Linked DNA regions of Homo sapiens. The protein of the gene in region 2 purifies or fractionates together with the protein of the main gene of each other region. This does not show direct contact. Each region holds a gene or a part of one and is shown on either strand. Other genes may lie near its edges.

Region 1 (3,820 bases), on a different chromosome or scaffold from region 2:
AATCTTGCCATTTTGTCTTCCCTAGTATGGTACCTAAGATTTTAATGAACACATTTGCTGTGATTTCAACAAGGTAAAATTATTTTAAAATGTAGACATATCTAAGAGTATTACTTTTTAAAAGGTCCAAGTACGATCAATAAATTATATAAACAATCCTCTTATGTTCATATTCATATTCTGTACTCACCGGAACAGCAGCCATAAGTGTGGGCTTCAGTACAGTACAGTCTCCTTTGCTTCCTTTTTTAATTTTGCTGGACTATATTAAAGAAAAAATAAATATGATCAGGAAAACCAACCTTAAAACATGTTGTAATTCAAGTATTAATAACAAATACAGAAGTTACACTTGGAATTTGAGCTTTTATTGCTCTGTGATTATCTGTTAACAACTATCATAACCTACAAGTCTCAAATGTAAGTATTTTAGTGCTACAGATAACTGCTTCTAGCACATTTCACCTTCCTTAGAGGAGAAACCTTGATCCAGGATAACAAGAGAATGACATTGTGATGAATCAAACATTCTTATTAATAACATACTATCAAATATAGCACAGACTATTACTACATTTTCAAAAAAACTTGATTAAGACAGATATAACACTAAAACAAAATTGAAGGTGATTTTAACTTTCTTTGATTAACAATAGGCAAAGCCACATCCTGAAGACACCACTATGAACATCAATTAACATCATACTGAAACTCTAATTTGGTAATATTCTAGTTGGTAAGATACTGAGAACACTGCCAGGGACAAAGTAGAGATACACATAAATGTGCACAAATGGCCATATAGAGGATGGTTCTCCCGATAGAACTAAGTTGCCTTTCTCCTACTTTTCTTTAATATGGATAAAGGAGATAAAATAACTCATTTTACATATGTGCAAGGATGTGCACATTTGCAAGTGGAAACCTACACAGAAACCATGTACACCACACACAGGAGGGCTGCTCTGCAGAAACAAAATGGGCTCTCATGTCCTTCAGGTCGGAGTTGCCCTCTGCATGCTACTGACCAGCTCTTGCTACAGAGAGCAGTTCCAGGATAGCAGAAGCCACAAGAAGCCCTTCTTTGTTTTTTTTACTCTTAGTAATTTTATCAGTTATTTTGTCTTCTTGTGATCATAGTAATCCTGGTTATGACAATATTGCTATCATCAGTTGGCTCCAAATGTGGTGCTTCTAGTCTCCTGCATCCTTCTGATTTCCTATGTGAAGCAAGTTCCAGTGTTTTAGATTCCTAGTAAGATTGAGAGTCTTTACAGTAAAGTTCATTTAAAAAGTAGGTGTGAATTTTACTGAACAGGCTTCTAATGTACTAGCTTAGCCTAAGAGACAGCAAGAATTAAGTCAGACCAGCAACAGACTCCAACTGTCCCTCCTTTCCCACACTGAGGCTATTGTTCTCAGAAAGGCAGTGAAAAATCAAAGAACGGCTAGTCCTGGCTTCCAAATTCACAAAGGGAAAAAAAAATTATACTCAAAGTTTACTGAAATGTTTTCTACATTTTGATAATGTCTCTGAGCATAAGAAAAACCCATGACAACAAAACATAATGATCAGAGATTTTACTAAATTTGTTTTAGAGTTTAAGCCTTAGTCTTATTGATAGGTCTACTTTGATTTCACCAGGTCAAGTTCTGCTATCAATCGGATAGTGTATTTATTCATACCATTACTATTCTAGCAGATTTTAAGTGTGAATTTATAGCTGAGTGGTATAGTCAAACACAGCAGCACCCTGTCATACAAAGATTGTGTTTCTTAAAGTACAAAGCTAGGAGTTGTTTGGAACAGAATGCGTTCTCACAGAAAAAGCCACTTTAAAAGAAGGCTGGATTCTTCCTTCAAAGAGAATCCAATGTGGTAATGACCAGGAGGGGACCCAAGGGACATTCACGGGTGCTGAAAATGTTCTTTGTTTTCCTAATCTAGACGGTGATGATCACAGAGGTCTATATGTGTATATGCTTATTAAATCTCATCAAGCAGTACACTTAATATTTGTGCACTTTAAGTCATATATCAAAAAAAAAAAAAACACAAAGGTGATTGGAATCTCAAGTCCAAAAAAAACTATTTAACTTTTTTTGTTTTAATAGTATACAACCTATCTAGCCTCTCCCTAAAATGGTATTTCTACAAATAAAGTATTACAATTTCTAACTGTGAACACTGAGGACGTATCTTACCAACTACATGCTCCATGGAGACTCTCAAACAAAAGGCAGCATTGCCTGGTGGGGGGCGGTCTGAAAAACAACAGCTGGGCCCCCAGTGTTGGAGGAGCAGAGCCACGTATAGACAAGTCATTCCTACCTATACTTGCTTTGTCTTTCAGCATCCAGAACCCCACAGCTTCTTTAGTGGCTCTTTTTTTTTTTCCCCTAAGCCTGGTTGAAGCTTTTCTACAGCAACTATTCCAAAGAAGACATAAAACAGAACTGTGGACAATAGTATTAGGTGTGTAATTTCAAATGGGTATAACATATATGAGTTAGCCCCACCCATTGTTGGGATTTCTGCTATGAACTACAGAGAGAAGGAAGAATCCTAACTTAGTATGGTGAGCTGAGACTACCTTTGGAGATGCCTCAGCCCCTACCAATAGAACTTTCTGTGATGATAAAAATATTCTTTATCTTTGCTGCCTAATATGGTAGCCGTTGGTCACACGTAGCTATTGAGAGCTTGAAATGTGGCTAAAGCAAATAAAAAAATTTTTTTCAATTTTACTTAATTTTTTTTTTTTTGAGACGGAGTCTCGCTCTGTCGCCCAGGCTGGAGTGCAGTGGCGCGATCTTGGCTCACTGCAAGCTCCACCTCCCAGGTTCACGCCATTCTCCTGCCTCAGCCTCCCGAGTAGCTGGGACTACAGGCGCCCACCACCTCGCCCAGCTAATTCTTTTGTATTTTTTTAGTAGAGACGGGGTTTCACCATGTTAGCCAGGATGGTCTCAATCTCCTGACCTTGTGATCCACCCGCCTCGGCCTCCCAAAGTGCTGGGATTACAGGCATGAGCCACCGCGCCCGGCCCTTAATTTTTATTTAAATATCTGCCTAGTGGCTACTGTATCAGACGGTACTGCTCTAGAAAAATCTCGGGAAAACTGGGCCAAGACCCTAACATATCTCCTCCCAGAAACCCACCAATGCTCATGGGTAGTGTGTCAAAAAGGCTCATTGCATTTATATTCTCTATCGTAGTTCTCAAGAGTAAAAATCTAGTAGAAAAAGATAAAAGTAATTATTCATTTTTAAATAATTTTAAGGCTGGGCACAGTGGCTCACATCTGTAATCCCAGCACTTTGGGAGGCCGAGGCGGACAGATCACTGGAGGTCAGGAGTTCGAGACTAGCCTGGCCAACATGGCGAAACCCCATCTCTACTAAAAATACAAAAAAAATAGCAGGGCATGGTGGCGGGCGCCTGCAATCCCAGCTACTCTAGAGGCTGAGGCAGGAGAATCGCTTGAACCCGAGAGGCAAAGGTTGCAGTGAGCCAAGATCATACCATTGCACTCCAGTCTGGGTGACAGAGCAAAAGAAAAGAAAAAAAAAATAATTTTAAAATATATAGCTAAAGCAATGCTAACAAATCTACAGGGTAATCTCCTATAGCTACATATTGTTCATGGAAGCTATTTTGAGGTCAAGGAGAAAGCTTTAGCTGAATTAAAATATCTCGAGTCCTAGTAATATGTTCTCAGCCAAACCATGCAGCATCATACGATCATGCCAATATACTGAAAAGTTTGTCACCTGGTCAGAGAGTGTAAGCGGAGAAGAATATCCAATCCTGCAGC
Region 2 (4,470 bases):
GACCTCGAGCTCTGTCTAGCCCTCAACTGTTCTCAAATCTCCATTGTTTTCTACAAGTGACCCTCACAGCTGTGGGCCTTTGTTGACAAATTGTTTCATCTCCTCTGGGTCTTAAATTATTTTCTCTTACTCTAAAGTGAAAATTTGATGAATGTTTCCAGATACTGCACTTGGAATCATAACTTAATTTCCCTTAACCTTGTGTAAATTCTGTCCCCCCACTACTCCCAACTCCTATCCCTCCTCCAAAGCACTGATACTTATTATCACATTTAAATTTTTTCCCCGCTCTACTGATAACTTACAGAATGCAGGACTGCATTGTGATGGGGTAATTTCCATGAGTTGATTGGTTGGTTTTGAGTTGAAAAACTTAACAATGATACATCTTAAATTCTTTCTTTGAGGATTATTCCTTAATGAATTCGTGCTACGGACATACTGAGGTGGTTATTTTTATATTTCCCTGATAATAAATTCTAAATTGCTAAGGGTTTCTTACCACCCTCGTCCTTTTACTGTTACTAGATCTATTTTTAGCTGGTGTGGGCGTCCCCAGCTAGTTTCACTTGCCTAATGCTAGTTCTTTTTTCTTCTACATCAGGTCGCCTCTTCCTAGCATCTTCTCCATGTTTCTTGTTGCTCTACAGCATTTACAAGACCCAGTTTAATAGTTTAGTGCCTTTTTTGTCACTCATTATTTCTTCTTTGTTCTCTGTTAAAATAATAAGTGTATGATCCATTGCACTTGCCTTAGAGTCTTGAACCAGTCTTGGATTTCCCGCCATCTGGGTTCTGGCTGGCTTGCAATTTCTCCTTTGATGTTGTAATACTTTTTCATTGAACTTGAGTGTGGGGCTTATAGAGCTTCTTTGCTTTCATTATTTTTTCCCAAAATGTGCACATTTTTTTTCTTAAGCTTATTTTGCTGTTTTGTGCTGTTATTTTTAATTGCTTCCCACTGGGTGGGGGGGTAGGGGGACTGAGAGTGAGATTTGGCTTGAGTTTGGCTCTCTTTGCTATTACTCACATTTCCCCCCAGAAGCCCTACATGCACTCCTCTCTCTCTGTCTTTGACAAATTACTTTTGAAAGATCATTGATCCCTGGCGTAAATGGTGTTAAGAGTAAGATGGACTCGGGTAGGGATGCTCAGGAATCCAGTCCTGTACAGTCATGAGCTTGGCCATCTGGAAGTCTCCTCTTGCTCAATGAAATGGAGTAAACATTGTCCATTATGAAATCCACCACACAGGCTGCCAGGGACGAATGGGATCCCACCCAAAGCCAATCGCTGCTCTGACAGGGAAATTGGCTAGCACTGCCTGAGACTACTCCAGCCTCCCCCGTCCCTGATGTCACAATTCAGAGGCTGCTGCCTGCTTAGGAGGTTGTAGAAAGCTCTGTAGGTTCTCTCTGTGTGTCCTACAGGAGTCTTCAGGCCAGCTCCCTGTCGGATGGCTTTTATGAAAAAATATCTCCTCCCCATTCTGGGGCTCTTCATGGCCTACTACTACTATTCTGCAAACGAGGAATTCAGACCAGGTAAGTACCCATGCGTCTCATTTTGGAGGAATAGGTTTAAAAAACACAGGGGTGCTTGAGTGTTCCTGAGGACCAAGATGTGTTCTTGATCCTCAAAGTTGGTGAAAATGAGGGAACCCTGAGTTAAGATGGTATTTTTGTGTCCTCCAGCTACAGGCTGTGGACAGGGGGGACTGTGTAGGAAGGGTAATCGTGTAGCCAAAATCTAGCCAAATAGGCCATGCTTTATTTGGCACCCTTAATGGAAAGCAGTTTCAAATCTTCTACAAAAATGAGAGTAATACCCAAATTCACAACTCAGCAGCTAATTGGGCTCTATGAAGAGACTGATAAGTGGGAGGCAAAAAAAAAAAAAAAAAAAACTGGAGATGATGACTACATAGAAGTGAGGGAAAATCCCTGGAATTTCTATGAACACATGTGTTTTGATTCCTTGTTAAATGTACTTTCAATTGAGCAAAATTGAAAGAGTCCAGAAATGTCTGGAACTCCAGCATTTTAGCTGAACCATGACTTTTCTGGCTTCATCCTATGATCTCTTTCCATGGAGGTTTTTAGAAATGACAGTAGGGAGGCTGTCAGCCCAAACCTCCCACTTCAGAGCATGTTTATGAAAGACCTGGCCTGTTCCCACAGTGATTTACGGAGTTTGTGACAAACTGATCTGGGCTCATAACCTTTAAGTTACAAATTGCGATAAGCATGCCTATATCCAGAGAGGGAGAAGGAATTTTGCTGCCAACTTGGGTATGGTCCTCACTTCCTTTTGGGGTTCCCCAGAGATGCTCCAAGGAAAGAAAGTGATTGTCACAGGGGCCAGCAAAGGGATCGGAAGAGAGATGGCTTATCATCTGGCGAAGATGGGAGCCCATGTGGTGGTGACAGCGAGGTCAAAAGAAACTCTACAGAAGGTGAGGGTTCTATGCTCGCAGATATGTGTACCGTCACATGCTCAGATGTGTTCTTATATATGCTCACATATACACAGAAGCTAGCATATCGCAGATCTATATACAGAGGCACATGCACACACACAGACACTTAATTTTGCACTCTCATATATAGATTCAAACACCAAAAAACCCACAGGAATATAAAAGTATGCATTTAAGCATTCATTCATGTGTGTGTGTGTAATATATTCTGCAACAGAGTCCTTGAGTTATATATGCTCACAGACATGCCTAGTCACACACATTTACACATGGAACTACAGATACATACGGATGTTTTCAAAAACTGAAATCCCAGTACCTGCTTATGAATACATATCCTCATACCCATGCAGACTCCCAGACACATGCCCTCTCATGGACTCACAAACCCAAGGATGTACAAACATTCACAAACCTAGAGCTACCCACATAGTAACCAGCATCTACACTCATAATGCCCTCAGAAATGCCTATTCACAGAAGCCATGAGCATAAATCATGAACTTAAACCCCAGCACTGGGATGATTTATCCATTTGAACCCCACCAAGTTCCAGAAAATATTTCAGACAGAGGACGATGATCATGAGGGTTATATTAGGCAACACACACACAAACATACTTACCATTTCTTACCTAAACAGGGCTGTGAGCAATCTCTCATTTAAGCCCCCCGTTACTTCAGAGACTACCCCCCAAAAATCTGCAGCTAAGACTGATGCCATTTCTGCTGTATCACTGCAGGTGGTATCCCACTGCCTGGAGCTTGGAGCAGCCTCAGCACACTACATTGCTGGCACCATGGAAGACATGACCTTCGCAGAGCAATTTGTTGCCCAAGCAGGAAAGCTCATGGGTGAGGCTGTTTCTCTTACCTCCTCCTCTGAACTTTGCCCTTGGGGTCACCAAGAGCTTTTGGGAGGAGAATGGGAAAGGTATCAACCCCAGATGATTTCTTAATATAGCCATCTCTTGCAGGAGGACTAGACATGCTCATTCTCAACCACATCACCAACACTTCTTTGAATCTTTTTCATGATGATATTCACCATGTGCGCAAAAGCATGGAAGTCAACTTCCTCAGTTACGTGGTCCTGACTGTAGCTGCCTTGCCCATGCTGAAGCAGAGCAATGGAAGCATTGTTGTCGTCTCCTCTCTGGCTGGTAAGTGGGACAGGGACATATGTGGAAGGTAGAAGAAAAAAAAAAATGCCAGGGATGATGCCAGGCTCTGAAGTAGACATAAATTTTTATCAGTTTCCATGCAGAGAAGTAATGAGGGATTGGTCAAGGTAAGTGGGCTACAAAATTCTTTTAAGTAACAGAGAAAAAGCAGTAGCTCTGAGTGCTCATTGGAAGACTGAATTGTTTTCTACAAAGTAAGGTCAAAGGGACTTGAGGGGCTGCTGGAGGTACAGCCTGTCCTGGTCCTAAGGGAGAGACCTAGTTACAATATTAACTTGAAGTTGAAATGTTCATAGTAATATTAAACAAAAGCTGATTAACAGCTTACTCATATGCATGAATGGGCAGATGTACTGATAAGAGACTTGTAGGGGGGTGATTTGTGGACTCAATGAGAGGCACGCATCCTGAGTAAAGGAGACACTGTTACAAACTAGTGACACCATAAAAAATGAAGGATTGGTCAAGGTAGATGGGCTACAAAATTCTTTTAAGTAGCAGAGAAAAAGCAGTAGTTCAGAGTGCCTATTGGAAGCCTGAATTGTTTTCTACAAAGGAAGGTTGAAGGGACTTGAGAGGCTGCTGGAGGTACAGCTTGTCCTGGTCCTAAGTGAGAGACCTAGTCACAATGGATAAAAAGGACTTTGCTTCCTCCATGACCAAAAGGTTGGTGAAGTTATGTAAATGTGAAGGTACAACTGAGAAGTTAACTGTTTTAACAACACACAGGTGTCTGATAAGTGGGCTAAGCTAAAGCTAAATAAAATGAACAACAAGAAAAAAAAAAAAGATGAACAGACCTGCCTA

Evidence for each region.
Region 1: the proteins of HSD11B1 (region 2) and ACSL4 purify together in Homo sapiens (affinity purification with mass spectrometry; one large-scale study listed by BioGRID and IntAct). This does not show direct contact.

What each region holds. Positions count from the first base shown.
Region 1 is NC_000023.11:109,674,212-109,678,031, forward strand, and holds part of ACSL4 (long-chain-fatty-acid--CoA ligase 4), read right to left. Parts: coding exon 3,777-3,820; intron 263-3,776; coding exon 191-262; intron 1-190. UniProt on the Homo sapiens protein: Catalyzes the conversion of long-chain fatty acids to their active form acyl-CoA for both synthesis of cellular lipids, and degradation via beta-oxidation. Preferentially activates arachidonate and eicosapentaenoate as substrates.
Region 2 is NC_000001.11:209,703,487-209,707,956, forward strand, and holds the start of HSD11B1 (11-beta-hydroxysteroid dehydrogenase 1), read left to right. Parts: upstream 1-1,359; 5' UTR 1,360-1,456; coding exon 1,457-1,544; intron 1,545-2,324; coding exon 2,325-2,455; intron 2,456-3,222; coding exon 3,223-3,334; intron 3,335-3,456; coding exon 3,457-3,642; intron 3,643-4,470. UniProt on the Homo sapiens protein: Controls the reversible conversion of biologically active glucocorticoids such as cortisone to cortisol, and 11-dehydrocorticosterone to corticosterone in the presence of NADP(H).